Regions from separate parts of the Homo sapiens genome. Here regions 1 and 2 are each linked to region 3. The links come from fine-mapping of genetic effects on gene expression. A gene starts in region 3. Each other region holds a variant in brackets. All regions are shown on one strand. Distances are from middle to middle.

The links. PIP is the estimated chance that this variant, and not a neighbour inherited with it, causes the effect.
Region 1: its variant is fine-mapped to the expression of LAPTM4A in pancreas (GTEx, PIP above 0.99). The same link has a PIP of 0.9 or more in adrenal gland.
Region 2: its variant is fine-mapped to the expression of LAPTM4A in whole blood (INTERVAL, PIP 0.98).

Annotation. Positions count from the first base shown.
Region 1 is chr2:20,070,583-20,078,762 of GRCh38, forward strand. The region is part of intron 2 of LAPTM4A-DT (LAPTM4A divergent transcript); the gene reads left to right. Among named protein-coding and RNA genes, the nearest start is that of LAPTM4A-DT, 23 kb to the left of the region's middle. The variant G/T (reference allele first, on the strand shown) is at 3,584.
Region 2 is chr2:19,747,646-19,755,825 of GRCh38, forward strand. No RefSeq gene overlaps it. Among named protein-coding and RNA genes, the nearest start is that of LINC00954, 120 kb to the right of the region's middle. The variant C/T (reference allele first, on the strand shown) is at 3,602.
Region 3 is chr2:20,047,455-20,055,634 of GRCh38, forward strand. It overlaps LAPTM4A (lysosomal protein transmembrane 4 alpha), which reads right to left and starts at 4,174. Exons shown (of 7, transcript NM_014713.5): 1 at 3,956-4,174. The coding sequence starts at 4,066. It overlaps LAPTM4A-DT (LAPTM4A divergent transcript), which reads left to right and starts at 4,683. Exons shown (of 5, transcript NR_187142.1): 1 at 4,683-5,040. RefSeq lists enhancers at 3,310-3,449, 3,985-4,184.

The sequences.
Region 1 (8,180 bases), 23 kb after region 3:
GGCGGAGCTCAGACAGTCATGCTTGCTCGCCTGCCACTCACCTTCTGCTGCATGGCCCGGTTCCTGACAGGCCATGGACCAGTACTGGTCTGAGACCCAGGGGTTGAGGACCCCTGCTGTACACTATACTAAATTTATAAAAAACAATTATGTTATAATGTTATGACAGCTACGATGTCATGAGGATAGGAATTTTTCAGCTCCATTATAATCTCATGGGATCACTGGTGTATATGTGGTATATCATTGACTAAAACATCACTATGCATTTGTGTATATAAACGACTATATATGGAATTATCATGGTTGTAAGAAAATGGTATAGGAGCTGGGCGCAGTGGCTCATGCCTGTAATACCAGCACTTTGGTAGGCTAAGGTGGGCAGATCACGAGGTCAGGAGTTCGAGGCCAGCCTGGCCAACATGGTGAAACCCCATCTCTACTAAAAAACAAAACAAAACAAACAAACAAACAAAAACCAAAAATTAGTCGGGTGTGGTGGCAGGTGCCTATAACCCCAGCTACTTGGGAGGCTGAGGCAGGAGAATCACTTGAAACCGGAAGGCGAAGGTTGCAGTGAGCTGAGATCACACCCCTGTACTCCAGCCTGGGCGAAAGAGCAAAACTCTGTCTCACAGGAAAAAAAAAAAGAAAGAAAGAAAAGAAAATGGTATGGGAAACTGAGAGGCTAGGGAATAGGGAAGAATGGCAGCTTATTTTTTCTTTCACTCTCTACTTTTTGTGTTTTTAAAATTTTATGGCATATGCAGAAGAAACCTTGGCTTTACATCCCAGCTCCATCGGCTAGAGATGTATCCCAGCCTTCCCGCTTCAGGGCTGCAGGCACAGGAGTGGCCGTTTTAGAGCGAAAGCCATAGCAAGTGGGGGTGGACAGGGATGGAGGCCAGAGATGTGCTCCTGAGTGGCCTGGACAGGATCCAGGAGTACGGTTCACCCGTTTGTAGTGGTGTGGACGGCCTGTGCCAGGGACCAGGAAAGATAGGGCTGGAGCTCCAAGGGGCACGGAGGGGCTGTGAGAGCCAGAAGGGGGCTGAGTCAGCCAAGCAGCACCACTGGCTCCACCACACAGAGCTTTTTCTTTGCAGTGAAGTCTGGGCCGCTCACTTTTTAGCCCCAGGCTGGGGAAGATGACATAGGTTCCCAGACGGTGAGCCTCACCCAGTGAAATTTCTTTCTGGCTGCAGGGTACATGCAGACCTGACCTTTTGGGTTTGCAGATCTGTGTGGAAAGATAACCTTCTCACAGGAGGCTTGCAAAGGAAATCCCTGCAAATGAGGACAGGTAATAATACCTTTGCTTTCCCAGTTCTTTAAGACTCTGACTCCACAATAACAGGGCTTTGCTTCCAAAAAAAAAAGGCCAACATGTGTTGCAATTTCAGCCAACATATGTTGCAAACTCAGGCTCAGCATCTGGTAGTAGTTAAGGGCAGGCTGACATTCACTGTGTAATTCAAATTCCTCCAGCCCTTTGTCCTCTTTCCCAGGCTCCTAGCAGCCTCCTCCCCTTCTCCCACTTCCCCTGACTTTCCCCCAAACTCTAGACGGACTTGTTCCTCTGCTTCCCAGTCTCACCAGGACCACCCCACCCACTCCTTTGGAGGTTGTTTTCAAAGCAGTGAGCAGAAAGAATCCAAGGCCACATGCCACTCACTCACTCAACCCGGGGCACGTTGTAAGGGACTGGGTTTCTGTTTGTTTTGTTGGCGTTTCTTGTTTTGGGAGTCGGAGGGAGTAGAAAGGGAAGGGAAATTATTTAGTGGATTTTTTTTTCCTTCTTTTCCTTTTCTTTCTTTCCAGAAAACTAGCATTTCATAGTTCAGGACCCAGTGAACAATCAACTGCTGACTCTCACCAATATCAAAGGGAAAAAGTTAGTAAAGGAGTTCGTCCCACTGCTCTAGCTGTCTAAAAATGTAACAGGCTTCCCCTTCCCCAACATAACCTGTAACTAAAATCTTGTTTATTTTCTGAACTTTTCAAAGAGGTTTAAGTACATTTTTGTGTATTTTTGAGAAAAGCACAGCTTATCCTATCACTGTCTTGCATCATATTTTTAAGTACCACATTACAAAAGACAAATATCACCAAGGCCCCTTAGAGCGTCCAAGATATAAAACTGCCGATGGACTGGCCACAGTGCCTCATCCCTGTAATTCCAATGCTTTGGGAGACCAAGGTGAAAGGATTGCTTGAGGCCAGGAGTTTGAGACCAGCCTGGGCAACATAGCGAGACGCTGTCTCTACAAAAAATAATTTTTTTTAATTGGCTAGGCATGGTGGCTCATACATGTAGTCTCAGCTACTTGGGAGGCTGAGGCAGGAGGATTGCTTGAGCCCAGGAGTTTGAGGCTGCAATGAACTATGATCATGCCACTGCACTCCAGCCTGGGAAACAAAGTGAGTCCTTGTTTCTGAAAAAAATAAACTGCCAATGGTGGCTTGTATGCTTGTATACCTGCCACCCTCACGTAAAAGAGGAGCAGTCCGCAAGATGGTCCCCCTCAATGCCATACCCCCTTCCAGAGCTTTCCCTCTTAAGGCAGAAATGGTGTCTGCTGTACATTCTGGTCTGGTATGTGGGCATATGCCCCTAGTTTCCAATTCAGACTGAAATTATTTACACCACATGCTCAAGCTGAAAGGATTACCCAAGGCGTGATCCTTGAGTGCCTCTGTCCCCACATCTCCCACCTCCCTCAGCATGCACTACTTCCAAAATATGCTTTACAACTGTCCCCTCTCTCCATCTCCACTGCCACCTCTCTAATCCTAGCTACCATCCTCTGTCACTTGGAATATGCAATACCTCCCTACCTTATCCCTCTGCTTTTCCTTGTGTAGAAAAAGTCATTGAAAAGTTCTGTCTGTACCTTTTTCTTCTTTGGTTCACTCTCCCATCCCTCCCATCATTTTTCAAGCAGGTAGACAGACTTGATAATCCCATGTTTCTAGAATTCTAGAAAGGCTATAAGGCAGCCTAACAACATCTCAGCTTTTGCAGAAGCCTGAATCAGAGATGACTTTTGGCGAGGTGTCCTGGGGGGTGTGGGGAGAGAGTGTGTGTGTCTGGACACAGCAGCAAGGACAGAGATGAGATTTTTTCTAGATTGAGAATAGAGGGAGTTCCTTAATCCCCGAGAGCAGGGAGGAGCCCAGTCAAGGTTCCAAGGAAGAGGCCTTAGGAGGTGCCCAGATCAGAGAGCTTGGCAGGCTGAGGTGCTAAGGTGAGGCAGGAAATTAAAGAAAAATAAAATTAAGAAGAAAGAGAAATAAGTTTTCCTGTATTGGGCTGACTTGTCCCAGAGGCAGCAACAGGCACAGCCCAGACCCAGGAAAAGTCTTGATAATATTATCTAATGTGCTCTGGAGACTCTCCCAGCCCTCCCTCAACATAGGGAAAAGAAAGACAAAATTTCCTTTGTTTTATGGAATGAGTTTATAGATTGCTGTTCTCTGTAACTAGTGACTTCAAGTATTCTGTTTTATCTAAGAAGTACAACGAAGGTCATTAGAAGCCTGAGTAGACCTGAACTACAGCTGCCTGGGCACCATAGTGAAG[G/T]TTATAAGATAAGCCCGTGCCCAGGCAAACCTAGATAACGGACATCTGGGTTGCTTGGCAACGGTCATGTGCAATCCTGTATTTGTCCTGCCTCTGTGTCCCTGCTTTCACACCACCGTAAGCTTGCTTCAAGCTAGCCCACCCCCTTTTGTGAAGTGTGTATAAAAGTCAGGTGCTGTCTTTGTTCTGGGCCCAGTCTTTTGGATGTGAGTCAGCTGGGCCTGAGTGCACTCAATAAAGATTCTCCTGTTTCAACGTGAGGTCTCTCTCGTCCTCCTGAGTCCCACAACAAAGGAAGCGGACTTTACCTGCAGAGAGTCACTAAAGGGGGCATGCTAGTCTTGGACAGTCAGAGCACCTGTTATAATCATGCCAACTAGAGGCCCTCACCATGTTTCATGAGTGTCAAATAAGGATTCCCTTGTGATCCTGAAAGGAAAAGTGGTCTCAAATATGACGTTTCAGGAAGGGAGGGGCTTAAGGCAAAATTAGGCTGAGCTACTGGAAATAAAGTGGTGTTTCCTGAAGACCTAAATGTGGACCAGGATTTATACTCACTATTCACTTAAGGTGACCAGTGGTCCCAGTTTGCTTAGAACTAAGAGATTTCTCAGGACATAGGACTTTCAATGCTAAAATTGAGAATGTTCTAGGCAATCTGGGATGAATTGTTTACCCTATTTAAAGTTCTTTCTACAAAATGATAAACTTACAAATGAAGTCAGGTCATAACTGTCTCTTACCATGGCCTTGGGGCTCCGTGGTGATCCGGATCCTGCCTCGTACTTCATCCAGCTCTGCCCGGTTCCTTCCTATCCAGCCACCCTGCCTCCATCCTGCCTTCAGCCGACCTAGTTTATTCCTGTCTCTTAACCTATCACCTGTGATTCCTTCTGCCTGCACCACCTTCACCCTTTTCTCCTGCTCTTTCCCAAGGTCACCTCCCTTCCCTCCTGCAGAGGTCAGCTCAGAGAAACGATCCCACACCTTCCTCTCTGAAATCGCTTCCTCCACCTCAGCCCCAGTCTCTCTCTGGCTGCCATAACCCTCTGTAATTTACTCGTGGTACTGATCTCATGTGTGAATTAGCTTGATTGTGCACTTGTCTCTTTTCCCCTTAGCATGGAAGCTCCAGGAGGGAACCCTGTCCTAGACTCTGGCTCAGGGGTTTACACAAAGTCGGTGTTCAACAGTTGTTGCCTGGCTGATTGCAAAAAAGGCTTTGTTTTTTTCTCTGTTCTTTTTCTTATTTTACTAAAAAAAAAAAAAGCAGTAAGTAAGCAGGTTAAATTTTTTCAAGATTAACCCTTATTTTGGTGGAGAAAAAAAAATCATTTGGCCTGGTTAGTGCTGGGGTTTAGTAGAGTAACCTTTGTTTTCTTCTTCTTGATGAACATTGTGGCCCATTTCCCTTTCAAAATTTTCTTTCTAGTCTCTATAACAAAGAACTAGTCACAGGTAAGACACGAGAGAAAAAAAGGAAAGAAAAACCAAGTGGTGGGGCAGACAGCACAATGTAAGATGGCTAAAAACAAGTCCAAATATATCAAAAACCACAATAAATTTAATTTTTCTTAGTTTTCCTTTTCAAGGATCAAGGCTACCAGTTTGGTTAAAAAATTCAGCCATATGCTGTTTCCATGGGACACACCAAGATCATAAGAACATGGAAAATTTGAAAATCAAAAAATGGGAAAACAGATCAGGCAAATGGCAACCACAAGAAAGTTGACATCAGAAAAAAATATTTTTAATTTATTATTTAAAAAGAAATTTTTTTGAGACAGGGTCTCACTTTTGTCACTCAGGCTGGAGTGCAGTGGTGTGATCTCGGCTCACTCCAACCTCCATCTCCTGGGCTCAAGCGATCCTCCTGCTTCAACCCCGCAAGTAACTGGGACTACAGGCACACGCCATCATGCCTGGCTAATTTTTGTATTTTTTGTAGAGACAGGGTCTTGCCATGTCACTCAGGCTGGTCTCGCACTCCTGAGCTCAAGCAATCCTCCTGCCTTGGCCTTCCAAAGTGCTAAGATTACTAGCACGAGCCTCCACACCCAGTCTAAAATAGATTTTTAAGACAAAAACATTACCAGGGATAAAGAGGATAACATAATGGCAAAAGGTTCAATTCACTGGGAAGATGTAACAACTGCAAAGCCGTATAGCATCTGTTTAAATAGCCTCAAAATGAGAGACCTCCAGAGACTGACAGCAGCAAACATATTTCCACAAGGGCACCTCCCAACACTCCTGGGTTCCGTTAGCACAGAATGAGTGCTAGTTCTTTGGCAACCCAAGATTAAGCCCTGTGGCCGCAGTGAAAAGAATCCCAGGAGAAAACTCAGAAATAAAATGGAAGAAGTAAGACTTCAGGTTGAAATCACTAGAAACCCCCAGGAAGTAAAGGAGGAAAATGAAACCGAGGAACCAGAAAAACTATCCAACAAGTTCATTAATACTTGGAGTGACCAGGAGATCCACAGTTTCCTAAAAGAATCTCTTAAATTTGAAGAAATCTCTTGAAGAGTCGAGGAAGAATCATGAACAGTCTAAAGTGATTGTCCAGCATCTCAAGCAGACGGGTACACAGTGGAGCTGGCACGTGACAAGTTTGCAGGACTTTTACTGGACTACTCATGAGGCCAACCTGAGGCCAAGGAGCCAGTGCCAGCCCTGTCCTGATGGAGAGGCCCTACACGGGATTCTGGGATACAGATGGAAGGATGTCTTTTCAGTTCCTCCCTCTGCAGATGCAATTGTTCTTCCAACTGCCTAGTACCAGCCCGGGGCCTGTGCCATCCCTGTTCACTTTGAGGTGCTGCTGTGGGCTCCCTCACCCACGAACTGCATGTGGGATCGTTGGGTGCCCAGATAAGAACCCTGAAACATGAGCCCCCCACGGTCAGCCCCATGCTTGTTTCCTGACTTCTTCCCTGCAGCCTGCAGCCTGCAGCCTCTAGCAGCATTGGCCACCCTCTTCTGATTCTGATCCAGATTCTGAACTGAGAGACAATTAGAATCTGGATCCCAATTCCCTCTGAAAGCAACAGAATAACATGATCTATACACGGATGCATGACACTTTGCCAAGCCCAATGTAATGAGAATAAAGTGTGAATAAAATAAATGGCTTCAAAATACAAAAAGCAAAGATGAAAAAATTACAGGGAGAAATCCATAATAGTGAGAGATTTGGCATGCCTCCATCATATATTAATACATCAAGCACAAAAGAAAATAGATTTGAGAAAATTAATGGATGTGATTTAACATACATACATAGTATTGGGAGATCATTCTTCACTAGTCTTTCATACTTCTGCACATCTTGTGAGTGCAGCTTTTGTTCTGGATTATCTGTTCAAGTATGTACAATGAATAGCCTTGGACTATAGAGACAGTGCCTCCCTCTGGAGTGAACAGCAAGTTTGTTCACCGCCCAGTCTAATAAAGACACTGCCTCCCTCTAGGTCAAAGTTTGAGGAGGTTTGTTTGCAGCTCATTACAAAAAACTGGAACTTCCTAGTCTTGAGGTTTCTCAGCTGTGAAACGCACACACTGCATCCACCTGGGCCTCTTCGTATTAGCCTCATGGGACTTACAGGGCGAGGAGAATCCACACAAGCATGAAGCTCATGCTGCTTGCTATGCTAGGGGTGAGTAATAAATCCTTTGTCTCTGATCCAGGAGTCTCATGTCTTCTGTCAGTATATATGAAACTGTGGCAAGCTAAGTTACTAGATTGCAAGTGTGATCAAATATCAGACCCTTCACAGTTCTTGACACATTGAAGGTTGCACCCAGCAGTAGACAATATACCATCTTCTTATGCACTGCATGGAGCAGACACTAATTACCCAGCACAATGCCTGCCACGTGAGAGACACCGAGTAAATGTCAGTTCTCATTTCTCTCCAGCACTCCTGTTCTTCTTATTTCCTTGAGCACTCAGCAGCCTCAGGGAAGGAATGAAGCAGGTAAACAGAAATCCGAGGCTAGTGTTAAAACAGTCTGGGCAATGGTTCTGTCCATCCTAGCATAAAATAGGAGCACAGGGAGCTAGAGTGATGTAGAACAACTTCCCCCCATGCTGTGTTGGCCCTATGCTGTGTGACTTCGTTATTTGATTTGGAGCAAGACCATTCCTAGGAAAGCAAATTCTGTATGCTTATATTCAAATGTCAAGACATTTTCCAAAGGTTCTATAAAAATTAAATCTAGATAATTAACCATCTTCTCATAGCTCAGAGCAGTGAGTGAGACACGGTCTCTGTCTTTGAAGAGCTCCCTGTCATATCAAGGCTTGGCAGTGAGGTGAGGAGATTGAGCTTGGTAGGTAAACTACTAACACAATGTACCATATCTCCAAACACCAAGGGAGCATGATCCATGATTAATTCTACTGAGGGAAGAAGGTGGCACAGAGGAGGTGATGTGTCTGAGGCCTGACCTGGTCTAGAATAATTTTGTCAGGAGGAAAGTGAGCTAACTCAGCTTCCAGGTTGCAGTGGCCCAAGGTGTGAAGTTCCTGTGATTGTTCAGCATCTCAGGGCAGATGGGGCCAAAGAAGGGGTGGCAAATGGAATATAACCAG
Region 2 (8,180 bases), 300 kb before region 3:
GGCTGTCTGGCCACAGATGAAGAAGCAGCACAAAGCTGCATGGGCACTGGCCTGGCCTCAGCCTGGGCTCCCGAGGCCAGCAGTCACTGCCACTGGCCAACGCCCTGAGGGATGGGGCATTGCAGAGGAAAGCAGGGGCATCCAACCACTGGGAGCCAGAGGGTTCTAGGAAGGCCAACCATGGCCCACCTTTGCCTTCAGAATCGCAGCCTACATTTGTATCAGCAATGAGCTCCGGGCTCTCTGGTATCACCCCCAGGGGTTTAACAGGCCAGGTCAGGCCTGCAAAGATCTACGACTGCCTGGAGCTGACCACCTTAACAACCTGCTCTCCAAAGGCCAGCCCACCCAGAGGCCCAGGCTTCTCACTGCCCTGCCCCCCTTCTTCCAGGCTTCACGGCATTGCCCTGCTGTGACACCAACATCTCCAGCTCACTTTAGAGAAGAGAGGGAATCGAAAACATATGAGCCATGTGGAAGGGGCAAGGAGCCCACTGTTTTTGCAATGTGCCAAATCCACACGACAGAGGGCGCAAGCCAGAGGGCTCCAAAGAGGACTTCCTGTAGGCTGCGACCAAAATGGGTGTGGCTGCTCAGCCCTGAGCCAGGTGACCTGCCTCTCCCAGGCAGGCCTGAGAGGTCTCTTTCCAGGTGCCGGGCCTGTCCACCTCGGTCCCCAGCAGCTCAGGGCTAGGTACTCCCATAGCACACTTCTCCCTCCTGTCTTCTTGCCCTCTCCCATGTCAGAGCCAGGGAAGAGAGGTCCAGGTGAGAGAGAGGGAGACACAGAGCTTCTCACCATCAAGAATGAGCATGAAGAAAGACTTGCCCAAAACGTGGAACAACTTGGTGGCCACTGCCTGCCCTGACTCCCGGTCTACCACTGTTTTCCAGGCAGCCTCTGCCCAGTCTATGACCTTTTCCTCTGCCATTTTTGGCTGACATCTTTTCTGCTTCTCTACATTGCTGTCCTTTGTCTCCATCATTTACCAAGCCTAGGAAGTGCAAGAGAATCTTTCATGCTGCAAACACATTGCAGATGTTACAAATCGAGGTCCCAGCCTTAACTGTAGGCCCTAAACAAAGCTCTGATTCTTCTCCAGCATCTTCTCAACATGCATCTCACTTCTCTGAGGAGCTTGCAAACAGCTACAAATGTGGCTGGCAACCTTATGCCAGTGGTGGCGGCTTTAGGAAAGGAGGTAGCGTCACAGCGGACAGCAGGGTACATTCACAATCCAAGAAGACGGAAATCAAAATCAGTATCATTATCGTCATTGGCGGCGGCAGCATCTCTAATGGATATGAAATGCTGGCAATGTCAAGCCCCGTACTAAGTACTTTACACAGATTACTTCATCGAACTTTTACAACAAACCTTGCCAGGGGCATGCAGTTGTTTTCCCGCTGAAAAAATATAGAGGTCAAGGTTATGCCATCTCCCCTGGGCCTCTCAGCCTTGCCTGCTCTCCAGTCCAACTCCTGCCTCTACCTGATCTGCATTTTTGGAACTGTGGGAAGCACGTCAGTGGGTTTGTGAAATCAGTGTAATGGGACACAACAAGCTTTACACAACATTCTTCTTTTAAATGGAAGAATGGAATATAATGTTCAGAGTGCATCGCTCATAGTAAAGGTAGGTATTGTTTCGTGAAACTTTTGTTTCAGTTATATGAATGTGTGTATATTCATTACACACAGGATGCAATAGAGCATGATTTTAAATATATACCTTACTATGAGTCACAGTTAACAATCTCCAAACACTGTTATGTTGAACTCTCCGTCCACTGTCTCAGTCTTCCTGCGGGAATTTCTATCCTGTTTTCGTTTCCCCACCTTCCATGCTACAGGGTCCCCTCACAACCCACAGGGTTCCCTGTGCCGTGGTTTGCTGAGGAGCAGCCCTTGGGCCCCATGGACATTGGCAAGCCTGTCAGGGGGGCAGGCCAGCAGGCCAGGCTCATGGGGCAGAGTCCTGCCTCCTGCCTCCTGCTTCCTGCTTTAGCAAGGTGCTTCTGTCGGCCCTGCAGGACGGATGTTTCCCAAAAGAGGTTTAATGGCTCCTTCCTCCCTGAGCTGTCAGGTTAGTGCCTTTGTCTACAGAATTAGCACAGGTACACCTGCAGGTTGGTGTCCTCATTAAACTATTTTCTGCATCTTGATTCCATAAGGATGACTCCAGGGGACATTTCAAAGAAGCAATTCATTTGCAGTGGCCTCTCCCAATTGGAAAGGGTGGTCCCAGTTTCATTGGCAGAAGCAGAGGGAGGCCTGGGTCTGTCTGAATTTTCTGTACCAGCCTCCTGCAGCTGGGCCAGCCCACACAGACGTGGAGAAGTCAGGATAGTGGGCCTTCTCACCTTCTCCTCGCCATGCAGCTTCTCTCCTGTCCTTTGCCCTCTGACACTCTCCTGGCCACAGATAGGCCCAAAGCAGAAGTGTAAACTTCTCTTCTGGGCTGCTTCTGCCTTGTCAAAAATGCTGTCTGTGAGAGACTGCAGTCTCTAATGGTGGCATTCTAGGTGGAGATGTTATTGGATGGAAGGTCCCTGAAACCACACCATGCCAACACCCACCTACTCCACTTCTGGGTACCCCCATCCCTGTCCTCTGTGCAGCTCTGGGCCCACCTTTCCTAGAGCAGCCTCCCAGGGCTACCAGTCCAAGGAAGGAAGGATTCCAGACACCCACCAAGCACTGGCTAGGGACCAGGCGGAGGAGTCAGAGAGACACAGTTGGTCAGCCGTTTACTTACTGTTCTCCTGGTGAGACAGGATCCCAAGGGGGACATTGATCAATGGCGAGTTGTGAATGCTAAGTGACAATGTAGAAGGTCTGAGTCAGGACCACCGGGATGCAGAGGAGAAGGAGGTCTGTGGGCCAGCAGGCTGTGGTAGTAGAGGAGTCCCAGAAACAGGGCTGGAACAAGATCTTAGAAAATAGATAAAGAGCTCACACAGAAGACAAGGGCAAAGACAGGTATCCCAGGCACGGAGGATGGCAGAAGTAAAGAGGAGGGAGATTAAAAAATACAGGGCACATTGAGGGAAAGTGAGTCTACTAACAAGCCAGAGCAGAGCCTGTTCACAGGGAGAAAGACATTTAGAGCAGAGCTTTCAACCAGTTGCAGATGGATACAAGTGCTCCAAGACTCAGATCCTCTAACCCTTGGTCTGAGGCACCTGTGGCAGCTGAGCCCTGGGTCAGTACTCAAGTGACATGGAGAGGGTCAGCAAGCCATGAATTAGAGCACAACATTGAGATCATGTACCATTCCTGAAAGCTGATCCTAAAATCAGTCTCTTTTACCCCCCTCTCTCCTTTCTACCCCTCTCTCCCCTCCTTCCCTCTCATATCCAACAATATTTCCTGGGTACCCACCCCACTGGGTATTGTGCTGAATGGTGGGAATTCCACAATGAAGCAGACAATATCCCTACACTCAAGGGTCACGGGGTCTAGTAAAGAAGACAAGCCAGCAAAAACTTCATTCAATAGCATGCACCTGGAGCTAGGACTAAGGTCTGCATAGGGCATGCTAGGAGCTCAGAGGAAACATCTAACCTGGGACCCAAGGAAGATTTCCAAGAAAAGCTGA[C/T]ACCTGAGCTGAATATTCAAGGGCGGAGGGGAGTCAGCCACAGAAGGAAGCGGGGAAAAGGACATTCCAGGCCAAGGGAACAGCATGAGCAAAGGCGAGGTGGCTAGGGACCATACATACCCTAGCCATGGCAGGATCTACAAACACTCAGAGCCGCTAGAGTGATGCTAAGGCTGGGGCTACCCTGTGAAATAGGAGAAATACAGTGCTGGAAGGACAGATCAGGGAGCAAAGGGGGCTATAGGAAGCCTTTCCCAGTGCCAGGTCTATTCCTCAGAAGGAGATAGACACACCGGCGCCCAAGGGAAGGTGGGCATCCCTTGATGGGGGGAGTGGCATTTTCTTTCCCCAAGTCTGAGGCTGCTGCTCTTGCTGCTGACACCCCCAGAAACTCCAGAGGGTGCAGCCCTCACTGAAGGGCCCACTCCAAATTGTGCTGAATATCCTCCAAAAGAAAACTTATTCTTAGTAAAGGCTTTCCCGTGACCTTTCTCAGAGAGGAAAACACACACACTCTTCACTATTGCTATTCCCCGCCAGCTTTCCAAAGAACTACTCCCACACTGGCCTCAGGAGGGGGAGAAACCCCAGGGACCAAGGGTTAGGAGCAGTACTTCAGAAAGATTTCCAGGGAACAGAGAAGAGGATCTGATTAAAGTCCATCAACTATGAGGTTTTCTTCCAGGCAATTAAATTAAGCAAGAACATTCCAGTTCGTTCAGGTTGTTCCACTGACAGACACCTTTTTTTATAGGGAAAAAATAATCTTGGTAGTATGGTAAAAGATGATTAATTAAGACCACCACAAGGCATTTATTTGATTTGGGGTTTAGAAAAGCCCATCAATTTCACACAGCAAAAACCAATTTATCTGTACCTTTAATATCTAAGTTATCACTAAATCCATTATGTGGGAGAGGATCCTATTTTTTTGATAATGGCATAAAATATGGACAAAACATGAATAATTATGAAAAATAAAACAAGAACAGCACACACAAAAACAAAACTGTTAATAACAACTCATCAGGGGAAGCAGATGGCTCAAAGGCTTGTGATGGCAAGCCCTGGGCTTCACCTTCTGGCTCCAGCAGGTGCCACAGCCAAGCAGACCTGATGATGTTCACAGGGATCAGAGAGATCATCCCATACCCAGGCTCCAGAAGTCCAACTCATACGACATCTTATCCTGTGCACCTTCTCCTTTCCTACACCCATGTCCTGCTTTCCAGAGGGGCAGTAAATACTTTGAGAGCAGGGACCACATCTCATTCATGGCTCTGAAGATAATGAGTCAATATGTAGTTTCCAGCCATCTAGTCCTGAGCTGGAAACACAGAAATAAACATTCCACAGATGTGCTGATGAGCCCTGATTCTTCTGTCTGGCCTTCAGCCCGATGCCTAGGCTCCTTCCCTGTGCCAGCGTCCTGGTCCCTGTTAAGCCCAGTCACCTTTTCAGATAAGATGTTCTTGGAAGGGGATCAAGCAGCAGTTCCTGCACGTAGAAGGGGTTGGTATCAGCTGGGAATCTGTAAGCCTCCTCTGTCTCACTTCCTCCATGAATCCTATGATCTGAGACCTCAGTTTTGTCCAGGATATTTCTGAAAGCTTAAATAGCTGCCACAAATTAGACCTACTACTTCCTACCTTTCATCATTTTTCTTCTTTCATTCCTTGCATGCCCATTTTTAAGCTTACTGTGGGATTAGTATAATGGAAACATGCCTCCTTCCTAGGTCTACCTCAGTAAGGAAGTAGACAAGAAATTGGAACCCCTGTTTCAAGTGGAGTCCCCTCGCTTATAAATCTAAGTAAAGTTGGTCTACATCCTTGATCCACAATTTGCAGAACATGCAATAGCCTCTGCTCCTACATGCAAAGTTCCTGTGTGTTCCAAGGAGAGCTCCCATCCTGATTTAGTGTATTCACCTGTGACATCTTTCCCTTCTAGATTCTTCCCCTTTCTGCAATGTGTTATGGCTATTTACTTCCGCATGGAAGAAACCCAGACATGAACCCACCTCACTTTCTGAATTTATACCACACACCCACACAAGTCCTTAGAGTATAGGATAAATTTTACTAGAGGTCTGGGTAGCTGACAGATGTTTATGCCTTAAAAATGCCTACAACTTTAATTAAACGTGAGTTATTCTGGTCTTGAAAATTCTTTGGCTAGCCTACCATTGGGCTCAACCATCCTCTCCATGTCCAATTCCCCTGATCTGTTCTCACTAACACCTATATTCCCATCTGGTCCTTATATGTAACAGCTTAGTCATCTCTTTTGTTTCCTCATCTCCTAGGAAACCAGGCCCCCAGAGTCTCACCTTCTAAACCAAGTGACTTATCAAGATGTTTTCCTAAATAAATTCAATTCTTTCTTCAAGAGAAATTCTGAACCCTCTATAAAGAAAAGAAAAATCTTCCACTGCACAAATAGGCCTTTTCTATGTACTATGATCGGTATGATCAGTACTTGCTGTGGGAATTTATTGAACACTATGGGAGCGTAGAGAAATCCAGGCCTGGACTGAGGGAGTCAGAAAAGATAGCCCAGAAGAAGCAATTCCTAACCTAGCACCTGAAAAAAAGGGTAGAGTTAGCCAATAGAAAAGAGAAAGAGAATCCAGAGGAAAGCACACACAAAGGCTAGAAGCAAGAGAGAGCCTGGTAGCACCCAGAATTACAAGAGGTTCACAGTGGCTGAGAGGGGCACAGCAACCTGAGTGAGGGCATGATGACAGATACAACTGGCGAGGGGGTGGGGCCAGGCCACACCTCATAGATCAGGTTTGAACTTGTTCCAGAAGGCAATGGGGAACCTTCCAAAGGTTTAAGCAGGAAAGTGACATGGCCAGATTTGCACTTTAGAAAGATGACTCTGTGTGAAGGATGGAAAGTCAGTTATTAAGAGGCAAGACTAGAAGTAGAGACTGGTAGGAGGCTACCGCTGTGGCCCAGCATGAACAGAGGCCTGGACAAGGGAGGTTCCAGAGGGGAAGAAGAAATGGGCACAGCTTGAAGAGAGATTACAGAGGAAGGAATTGCCATTCCATGGTGCTGGAGTGGAAATGGGGAAAGAGTCTTGGGCAACTCCAAGATCTCTGACTTGACCAACGAGGTGGCAGACGGTGTTTTACTAAGATGAAGAATGCAAGAGAAGTGGGTGGGTTTGGGAAAGATCTGCCACCTCTCTCCCTGCCCATAGTGCAAAGACAAATGTTTTCTCCACCCAGGAACTGCCCACTCTGGTGTGTCCTGCTCATTGCAGCCACCCCCTCAAAAATCACCTGACCAATGGGGACCCAAAGAGGCCACAGCTACATGATGTTCTCAAACACCATGGGAAACCAATAGAGGAATCTAACAGACATTGAGTGGGCCCACCCTGTACCCACACTGCTCAGGCTACCTTCTTCTGCCCCCATTCTGTGCCCTTCCCCAGATGGGAGTTCCAGGTCAGACCACAGCTGCCCAGGCTGGCCTCAGTCTGGATCTGCTGAGTTCTAAATCTGACACCACAGCTTCCTCCCAGTCTGGGAGAAGGCATCTTGGTTTTGTTCTCTTGCACATACATAGCCATTCTTCAAGTCCAGGAAAGCCAAACACAAAGGTAATATCACTTAGCCAGGCTGCAATTAGCAGATTAGCGGCTTGTTGCTCTTGTCTTATGTCCCACTCGATGACCTCACAAAAGCCCAGAGAGCCTCAACACTGAGCTGCTCCAGGAAAGGGCCCATCGACTTCCCTGGCAAAAAAATCCCCCAGTCTGTCACCGTGAGTTTCCCCATTGTAGAGCTAAACTACAATTGATGTTCTGTCTCTATCAATTTCTCAGGAATGCTGGGACACAAGCCCAGTATTAATGAAGACAGCAGAAAGGCAGGCATGCGCTTGGCCCCGTTCCAGAGCTGACGGAGAGCGTGGATCCTGAATCATTCCGGGGACCCAGAGAAACCTGAATGAGGCAAAACAACCAGACTCTGGGGTCACACACAGGCTTGGTGGGGCAGACAGATGCGAGAAGGCTTACGGGAGAATTTCTGCTGGGAAGAAATAGCCTCGAGATTATCCTTTTTTATGATCAGGTATTATTTTCACCATCCAAGAAAGGCAATTTTAGTTCAGCCTAAAAGGGCGTATCCATAGGTGTGTTCATCTGGTAGTACACAATCACACACCCAATCTCACATACAGAGCTTACACGTCACATTAGGGGACCGTGGTAAAGCTAGAACTAGCACTCAAGTAAGGAACTGAGGCTGTATCTGCATGTGTCTGACCAAATCCCTGAGCACCTCTCAGAATTGCCTCTCAAATCAGAAGCCCTCCCAGGTCACATGCAGAGGAAGCCTTGATTGATGTGGGAGGCCTCACTGGTATTAAATTAAAAGCCAGTAAAATGCTTGTCTTCATCTCAGTTTGAAAAATGAATAGAAACTGGCCACTGGCTCCTGTTTCTCAGACAGTGTCATCTGGGGGCTTCTCATTTTGGAAACTTTTTTAATCACATATAATTCCTTAATCCTTCCAAACTGACCTGCTCCTTAAAACTGGCTCCAGTGATGCTGAAA
Region 3 (8,180 bases):
CCGAGGCGGGTGGATCATGAGGTCAGGAGATCGAGACCATCCTGGCTAACAAGGTGAAACCCCGTCTCTACTAAAAATACAAAAAATTAGCCGGGCGCGGTGGCGGGCGCCTGTAGTCCCAGCTACTCGGGAGGCTGAGGCAGGAGAATGGCGTGAACCCGGGAAGCGGAGCTTGCAGTGAGCCGAGATTGCGCCACTGCGGTCCGCAGTCCGGCCTGGGCGACAGAGCGAGACTCCGTCTCAAAAAAAAAAAAAAAGGAAAGTTTTACCACGAAAACATGTGAGCTAACCATTAAATTATCTGGACTTGGCAAAATGTTGTTAATGGTTGAAGCTGGGTGATGAATAAATGGGAGGTTTTCGTACTACTTCACTACTTTTGTATGTATGAAAATTTCCTTAATAAAATTTTTAGAAAGTGACTTGGGAGGACAGCAACATTTCAGGGAGAAGGAATAGCATATGCAAAGGCAGAGGCACAAAACTTCCTTAGTTTAAGGAAGGAAACTAACAAATATAAACAAGCTATGCTTACTTGAAGTCAGAGGTGAGGGCTAGAAAGGAATAGAGCTTAAGGAAACCTGTTTTTACTTCTCTCCCAGATACAGAACTTCAAACTGTTTATGGTTGAGACACTCATGAAAAATTAGCCATATATTAAGTCTAAGAGATAAAATTATTACAAATGCTCAAAATGTAGTCTTGTAGTGCACACCATTAATCACAAAGTATATCTACTACAGCACACTTTTAAGTCCATTTTCAATTATTCAATAAACATTTGAGTTTATACCTCATAAGAAACTTGTTTAAAATCAACTGGCTTCAAATTCTTCAATAAATGATAGAGAAAACCATTTCAGGAATGCCAGAATTTAAACATGAGCTCATTCTGAAATTTCCTGTTACTTAACCAGGTATGCTTCTTTTCTAGCTAAAATACGAAAGGCTCACACTTCAGGGCTGGTACCTCCGGTGCATATAATAACTGGTTCTGGCTTTCTCTATGTCCCACAGCACTATTTTGTACCATACAATGAATATTTTAGTATATGGTGTTACGATACTTTAACACTAGACCAGTAGAAGCCGTGGCTAGAAAGCAATGAGACTGTATCAGATACAGTCACTGATAGCGAGGGAGAGGGGCTCCCCCAAGTTCCAAATGACACAGGGGGAATCATCATCTCAGAAGTCTGTCCCACGTAATGTAAAAAGAAACATAAATATTCTCCCATGCAGACTGAATTATTGCCTCACCAGGAATCAAGCAAGAGAGTACCTTGACAAGGTAGGTAGGGAGGGAAGTGACATTTAATACTCACTCATCCCCATATTGTTTCTCTGTCTTAGTAAAGCAGCTTCTGAGAATAAAATGCACTACTTGGACAAGCCTTCTTTGCTTCGAAGTATTATACTACAGTTTGGCTTAGGTGGTCTTGCATCATAAGTGTTACATGTCTCCCCAAGTTGGTAGAGACTGTCTTTACACTGCTATGGTATTCAAGCTACTCTTTTGAAAGTCATCAACAAAACTATAATAAACAAAACCAATGGCCTTTTTCCAGTACTTATTCTGATTAGAATCTGATATTACTGATCACCTTCTCCTCCTCCTCATCACTGTACCATATGTTTTTCATATCTGTGCTCCAAGTTTGTGATACCATAAATATCTTAAGGGCAGATGCTGTGTTAGACAAGAAACATTTGAGAGTCTAGCACTTAGCAGGTAATAGGAAAACAAGGCAAATGACACATGGCCCCTGTGATTTATTCCTTTTGTTTGTCCACCAAAGCCTTTTACACTGCAGGTGGTCAGTAAATCTCTTAATCAATTTAAGACAGGTCAAACGATTTAAGAAGTTTACAATAAAATGTTTTACACTAATCTGAGAAGTCTATGCAAAGTAAGAACAGCTATGGCATCTTTTTAAAATTGTGAAACTAAAGCATGGTCTTCAGAGGTATGTGAACCCTTCTCACAACAAGGGCTTAAAGTAGGGAACAGATGTAAACTCCTCACTCCCTATTTTGTAAGAATAAGCGCCCGTAATGAAGTTTTTCTCTCTGCATTTTGAGTTTCCTGTTTGTAGTTCCCACTTTATCCTGCTATTCTATTCATTTTCTAGCTGAGCCCACAGCATCAAAAAATCTGCCTGAGAAAAACTGAAAAGAAATACAGCCAATTACATTCGGATGGTTGAAATAGAAATGGTGGTATTCTCTTCTTGAGGAGTTAGGAATCCTTTGTTCTGTGAGTGGAGGGAAGGATCTGAGAAGAAACAGGAAGACTAAGACTGCAGGAGAGAGCCAGGTCGATGGATTCTCTTAGTTAAATAGGAAAGAAAGTCATCTTCTGGGGGTGAGGAAGACGGAATTGAGTAATAGCCTTGAGGATCCTCAAGGTTTGAATTATTCATTTAGGGAAATAGAAGACAGAGCTAAGGACAAACAAAAGAAATGAGACCCAGCCCCTCAGCAAAATGGAGAAGCTATAAAAGGAAGTTAGAAACATAATGCAGCTGATGGTCATTAACTCTATGTTTAGTATTCCAAATCAGTTAAAATACAGAACGAAAGAGTCTCTGAGGGAAAATGTGATATAGTTCTGTCAATAAGGCGGTATTTCCGAATATAAAAGTACAGGAAACATGAAAATAAACTCAGCACAAGCAAACCTACACATTCGTGTTGTTTTTTAAATGTACATCAGAAACAAGACGGTAAAAAACAACAGGGCAGGTAGCAGTCATGTGGAGTCAGGTAGTCCCCCGGGGGTGGGCCATGAAACAGTATCTGCCTCATTTAAGATGATTCTCATCTGGCGTTTGTCCAAATGCTTACTAATGATTTCAAGTCAATGAGTGGGGAGAAGCAGCAAGTACAGAGAAAACAGATTGTGTCTGGGATAACTCTCTTCCTCTTTTGCAGTTAAGTATCAAAAACTGCACAGTATCACCAACGTCACCCACACAACCACATTCGCGAAGTCATTAAAGTGGCCAAGTCGACCATGTAGGAAGTTTGTCACGGCTTCGGCAAAATCATAATAACCTAAAACTACCTAAACTGAATCCCATATTTGGAAGTCATAGACAAGTTAGGTTTAATGTGCATGGATACTATAAATGGTGAATTACAAAAGAAAAAATCACAAACTTATTACTAGTGAATCACCAGGCAACAACAGTGTCAACTTGGTTAGGACAGAATCACACAGATCTTGGAACCCAGGAGATACCGGGGTAGGTGGCCAGGATGGAGAGGGCTCTCAATAAAGGTCTCTGTAAAAACAGCCGGTCGGCTACGAAAAGCACCTACTGCGCAGGGAGGAGGCTGCACCAGGACAAAAGCTGGTCAGGCGTCAACTCAGGCAAAAGCTATCGCCCCCAAGCGATTCTGGAGATGCAAGAGAGGCATGAAACAAAACAAAGTCCAAGAAACGCGGACAACCGGGTTACCGCTGGATCTTTCGCTTTCCCAACGGGAAGACCAATGTCGAAACTAGACTGCGTTTACCAAGGTCCGCTCCTAATTATTTCATTAGAGGAAAAAATTCCAGGGAGCACTGGATAGGAGGAAGGGAGATGCTGCCTTTCAGATCGTAGAAATACAACAAGAACCAAAACAGAGGAATTCCCACCAAATCCTACCACCCTCGTCCCTTCGCCTGCAAAGCCTCTGCTCTCCCAAGCCCGCTTCTCTCCTCAAATTCTTGCCAAAGAACAATCTCCCCATGCTTACCACCGCCCCCCGCTCCCCCGACTCCGATTCCTGAACAAGGTTACTTTCCCAAAGTCCTTGGACTTCATCCAGAGTTGGCGCGCCTTAAAAAGCAGCGCCCCTCCAAGTCCCCGCCCCACCCAACACCCCGTTTCCAGTCTCACCCCCTCCGCACCAGGCCCCGCTCCCCAGGCCCCCCGGACATACGCGCCACGCCTGCCCGCCTTACCATGTACCAGGTCCCCAGGATGATCGTCCCGGTGCGGACATGGCAACAGCCGCAGCACCGGGTGCTGTAGAACCGGTCACTGCGGTTCCGCTTGAAACTCATGGACACCATCGTAACAGGCGGGCCTCCTTCTTGGCCGGGCCCCTGACAAACGTTCTCCACCCGCAGCCAAACTCAAACGGCTGTTTCACGGCCTCCAAAACCCAACGACGCGTCTTCAAACCCGCCCCCGGCTCGTGCCCCTGCCAGCTTCTTCGCGCCTGCGCACTGAGCGCAGCGACTTCGGCTTACCCACCCCTCTTCCTCCACACAGGCCAATGGGGAGCGGAAGGCTGGATGGACCGGACTTCTGATTGGAAGAACTTGGGGATTGACAAGACCTCACGCCCAATTAGAAGTGCAACTCGCCTCAGCGAGTCTCCGCCTGTTACGCGAAGGCAAGGGCTGGTTCTCGGGCCTAGGATAGTTGGGGATAGGTATGTCCCCGTAGTGCACTATTCCCGAGATGAGACCCGCAAGAAAAGAGGCATTTAATGGAAAAAGGGAGACACGAGACAGCGCGGATGGCAGAAAGCGGGCACAAGGGGCTTTTCTGAGCAATGTGTGCCACGTACTGGATGGGAAGCGTCACAGGCTGATAACGTGACCTTTGCGCGCAGCTCAATTATTGCGCGGGCTGGGGGCGGGGCCTGCGGGGAAGGGACAGAGCCAAGCCCAGCCTTGAGCCATCCTCGCCCCTGTGGCGGAAATGGGAGGGTGCCTGGAGGAGTGGAGGGATTGGATTTACACCCTCTTTTCCCTCCGAAGCCTCCTTGGTGGGGGCGAAGAAAGACCATCCAACCCTGCCAAAGGCAAAAGGATTAAGGATAAATGAAAGCAAGATAATGTAGAAGAACTACTTAGCTGCTGGGTTTTTGGAGATGAGTGATTTTTTTTTGTAGGGAGAAATTATGAAACACATTGAAATGGACAAAAAATTACTGAATGTCTTCAATGAAAAAACAGCCATAGTTTGGCACACCGTCCCGGGCATTCTGTTGCTAGAGGGGCTGTCCGCTTTTCTTTGTGGTGCTCTGCACAACTCGGTAAGACCCCTCGTATTGTTATCTTACCCTTCCTTGGGAAAAGCCATTTTGCATCGATTTGTAAATTCATTCCCCAGTCCTGATTCAACAATATAGATGGGTGCTTTAAATTCTGCTTAGAGCTGGTTCTAACAGCTTACTGGTCCCCGGGTTAATGAGTAAATAAATTTTTTACACGTGTTCATTTTGTATTTCTGTGAGACCTGTGACTTCACCGTTAAAAAATGTATTTATCATTTAATGCTTTGGTAAACACACTTCTTTTCAGAGAATAGAAAGGGCTTCCCTTCTGCCAGGGCATATTCTTAGCCAGAGACCACACTGAATTCAGAGTAAAGGTTATTTCTTTGGCATGGCTTCTTTGAACACTGCCTGAAATTATGTATGTATTTGTTGATTATCTCCCCAATAAAATACAAATTTTAGGAGAGCAGAGACTATTCACCACTGAAGGAGTTGTCCATGGAGCTTATTTTCAAACCATCTGGGAAGCAGTAGTTAAGCCCGCCCACGCTAAAGGATGGGGTGTGGCTGGCTAACTCAGAATGAATTATGACATTTCTCTACTTATGTAGGGAGTAGATTATCTTAACCCCGCCCCACAATTTCGTATCCCTTATTTTGTTCTAGGCACAGATCCAATCACTTTATTTTCAATCATTTCATTCCTACAACTAACTGAGATAGGTACTCTTACGTTATTTAACTCTACAGAGAAGTTAAATTACATATCCAAGATTGCAAGGCCAGTGTCACAACTGAGATTAAAACCTGTTGTGCCAATAGTTTCCAAACTTTGCTGCACATTGGCATCACCTGAGGATCTTTACTAACCACTGATGCCTGCTTACTATTCCAGACCTTCTGATTTAACTGTCATGGGTGAGACCTGGGCATTGACATTTTTAAAATGTCAATTTTAAAATTAGGTGATCCTAATGTGCAGCACTGTTATTCTGTCTTGATATGAAATGTGGCAGACAGAAATAAATACAATACAATAAAAAAGAATACAAAGATAAGATCAGGGGAGCCGGGCGCGGTGGCTCACGCCTGTAATCCTAGCACTTTGGGAGGCTGAAGCAGGCGGATCACCTGAGGTCAGGAGTTCAAGACCAGACTGACCAACACGGAGAAACTCCGTCTCTACTAAAAATACAAAAAATTAGCTGGGCGTGGTGGCACATGCCTGTAATCCCAGCTACTTGGGAGGCTGAGGCAGGAGAATCACTTGAACCTGGGAGGTGGAGGTTGCGGTGAGCCGAGATCTCGCCATTGCACTCCAGCCTGGGCAACAAGAGCAAAACTCTGTCTCAAAAAAAAAAGAAAAAAAAAAAATCGGGAAATTATCCGATTTCTCTAAAAGCCAAAATGAATTCAAAATCAGGTGTACCTAACATGGCATCAGATCAGCTCGTAAGGGCTGTTCTCCCTGTACTGGGACTACCCCAGGCAAGGAACCAGGGAGGTGTAAATCATTAGAGACCTGCAACATAAACGCATCTGATAGCAATAATGTAAGCATACCCTGAGAATGACCCTGTATGGTAGATGCACCTGAATGTGTGCTCTGAGCTAGGGAATCTGGGAGTGGCCAACCTGGAGATTTGTTCTGTGTCTATGATAAACATCTTAAACCCCCACCCCCACCCACCGGCCCATCCATTGGAACATGGGCCATACAGGGGATTAGGGCCCTGAGTTTTGGGTTAAATGCAGGTTGCCAAGTGGAGGTCGTTAGTGGGAGGGTGTTCAGTGAAAATGCTGTATAAACTGCATGATGTTTACAGGCAGTTGCGGTTTTCCTGCCCTTGGGACGTGCAATTATGTTGTCCAGCCCGCTGCCAGAGGACAGCAGGAAGGGAGATGTGTTGTCCACCCCACTGCCACTGGACCACTTCTATACATAGCTGGTTCTTCTGTCCAGCCCGCTGCCACTGGACTCTTTCCCCTCTGTCACCACTGGACTGTAAGCTCCTAATACAAACCCATGTCTCATTTACTGGCTCTCCAGTCTCTTCTTGGCCTCTTGAACCTGGTACCTTCTCTATTGAGGTTAGTAGGAGTTTGGCACAACAATAGCATACATAACGGGATTAGAGGGGTGAAATACGGTTATGGAGTTTTGTCTAGATAATTTTTATCTAATATATACACCTTTTTTGAGAAAATTGTAAGGTACTATTGGCAAAACAACCCATCTTTTGGGGATGGGGAAAGGAAAGTTAACATTTTTAGGAGAAAATAGCTTAGGAAAACTCACAACGAAAGAAATTAGAGTGAGGTTGAAGCTCTTTAGCTAACATAGTTTAATCTATTTTTCTCTTTTAAATGTGTTAGTCTATTCACATTACTTTAACTTATTTTTATTGAGGATCTATTCTATTCCATGTGATGATACGAGAATGAACAACACAATATATACCTACTGTGTAGCCACAAAAATCTAAAATAAAAAAGGTATTAAAAGAAAGAACGAACAAGGCAGATATTGCACCTTTCCTGGAGTGTATATAGTCTACAGGGGAAAAAGTCAATGAGCATTTTCAGTCTTCATCCCATCTCCTAAAGCATTTACTTGTTGACTCTTCCTTAGAGCTAGAAATTCTTTCTTGGCTTCTGATTAACCATCCACTATTTTTTTCTGTGTACTTCTCAGGCAGCTCCTTCTTATTGTTCTTCGTAGTTCCCTCCTCTACTGTCCATCCCCCTAAATATTGGTGTTGTTGAGGGCTGTGTGTCAGGCTCTTTTCTCCTTTTATCTTTTCCCAGCTGTCACTTATTTACAAGATGATTTCCCCATGTATTCGTCCATTTTCACACTGCTATAAAGAACTACCTGAGACTGGGTAATTTATAAAGAAAAGAGGTTTAATTGATTCACAGTTCATCTTGATAGAAATAATTTAGCTTCCTGGCCAGGTATGTGGCTCACACCTGTAATCCCAGCATTTTGGGAGGCCAAGGTGGGCGGATCGCTTGAGTTCAGGAGTTCAAGACAAGCCTAGGCAGCATGGCAAAACCCCATCTATACAAAAAATACAAAAATTAGCTGGGCATGGTGGCTCATGTCTTTAGTCCCAGCTGCTCGGGAGGCTTGAGGCACAAGAATCACTTGAACCCAGAAGGCAGAGGTGAGC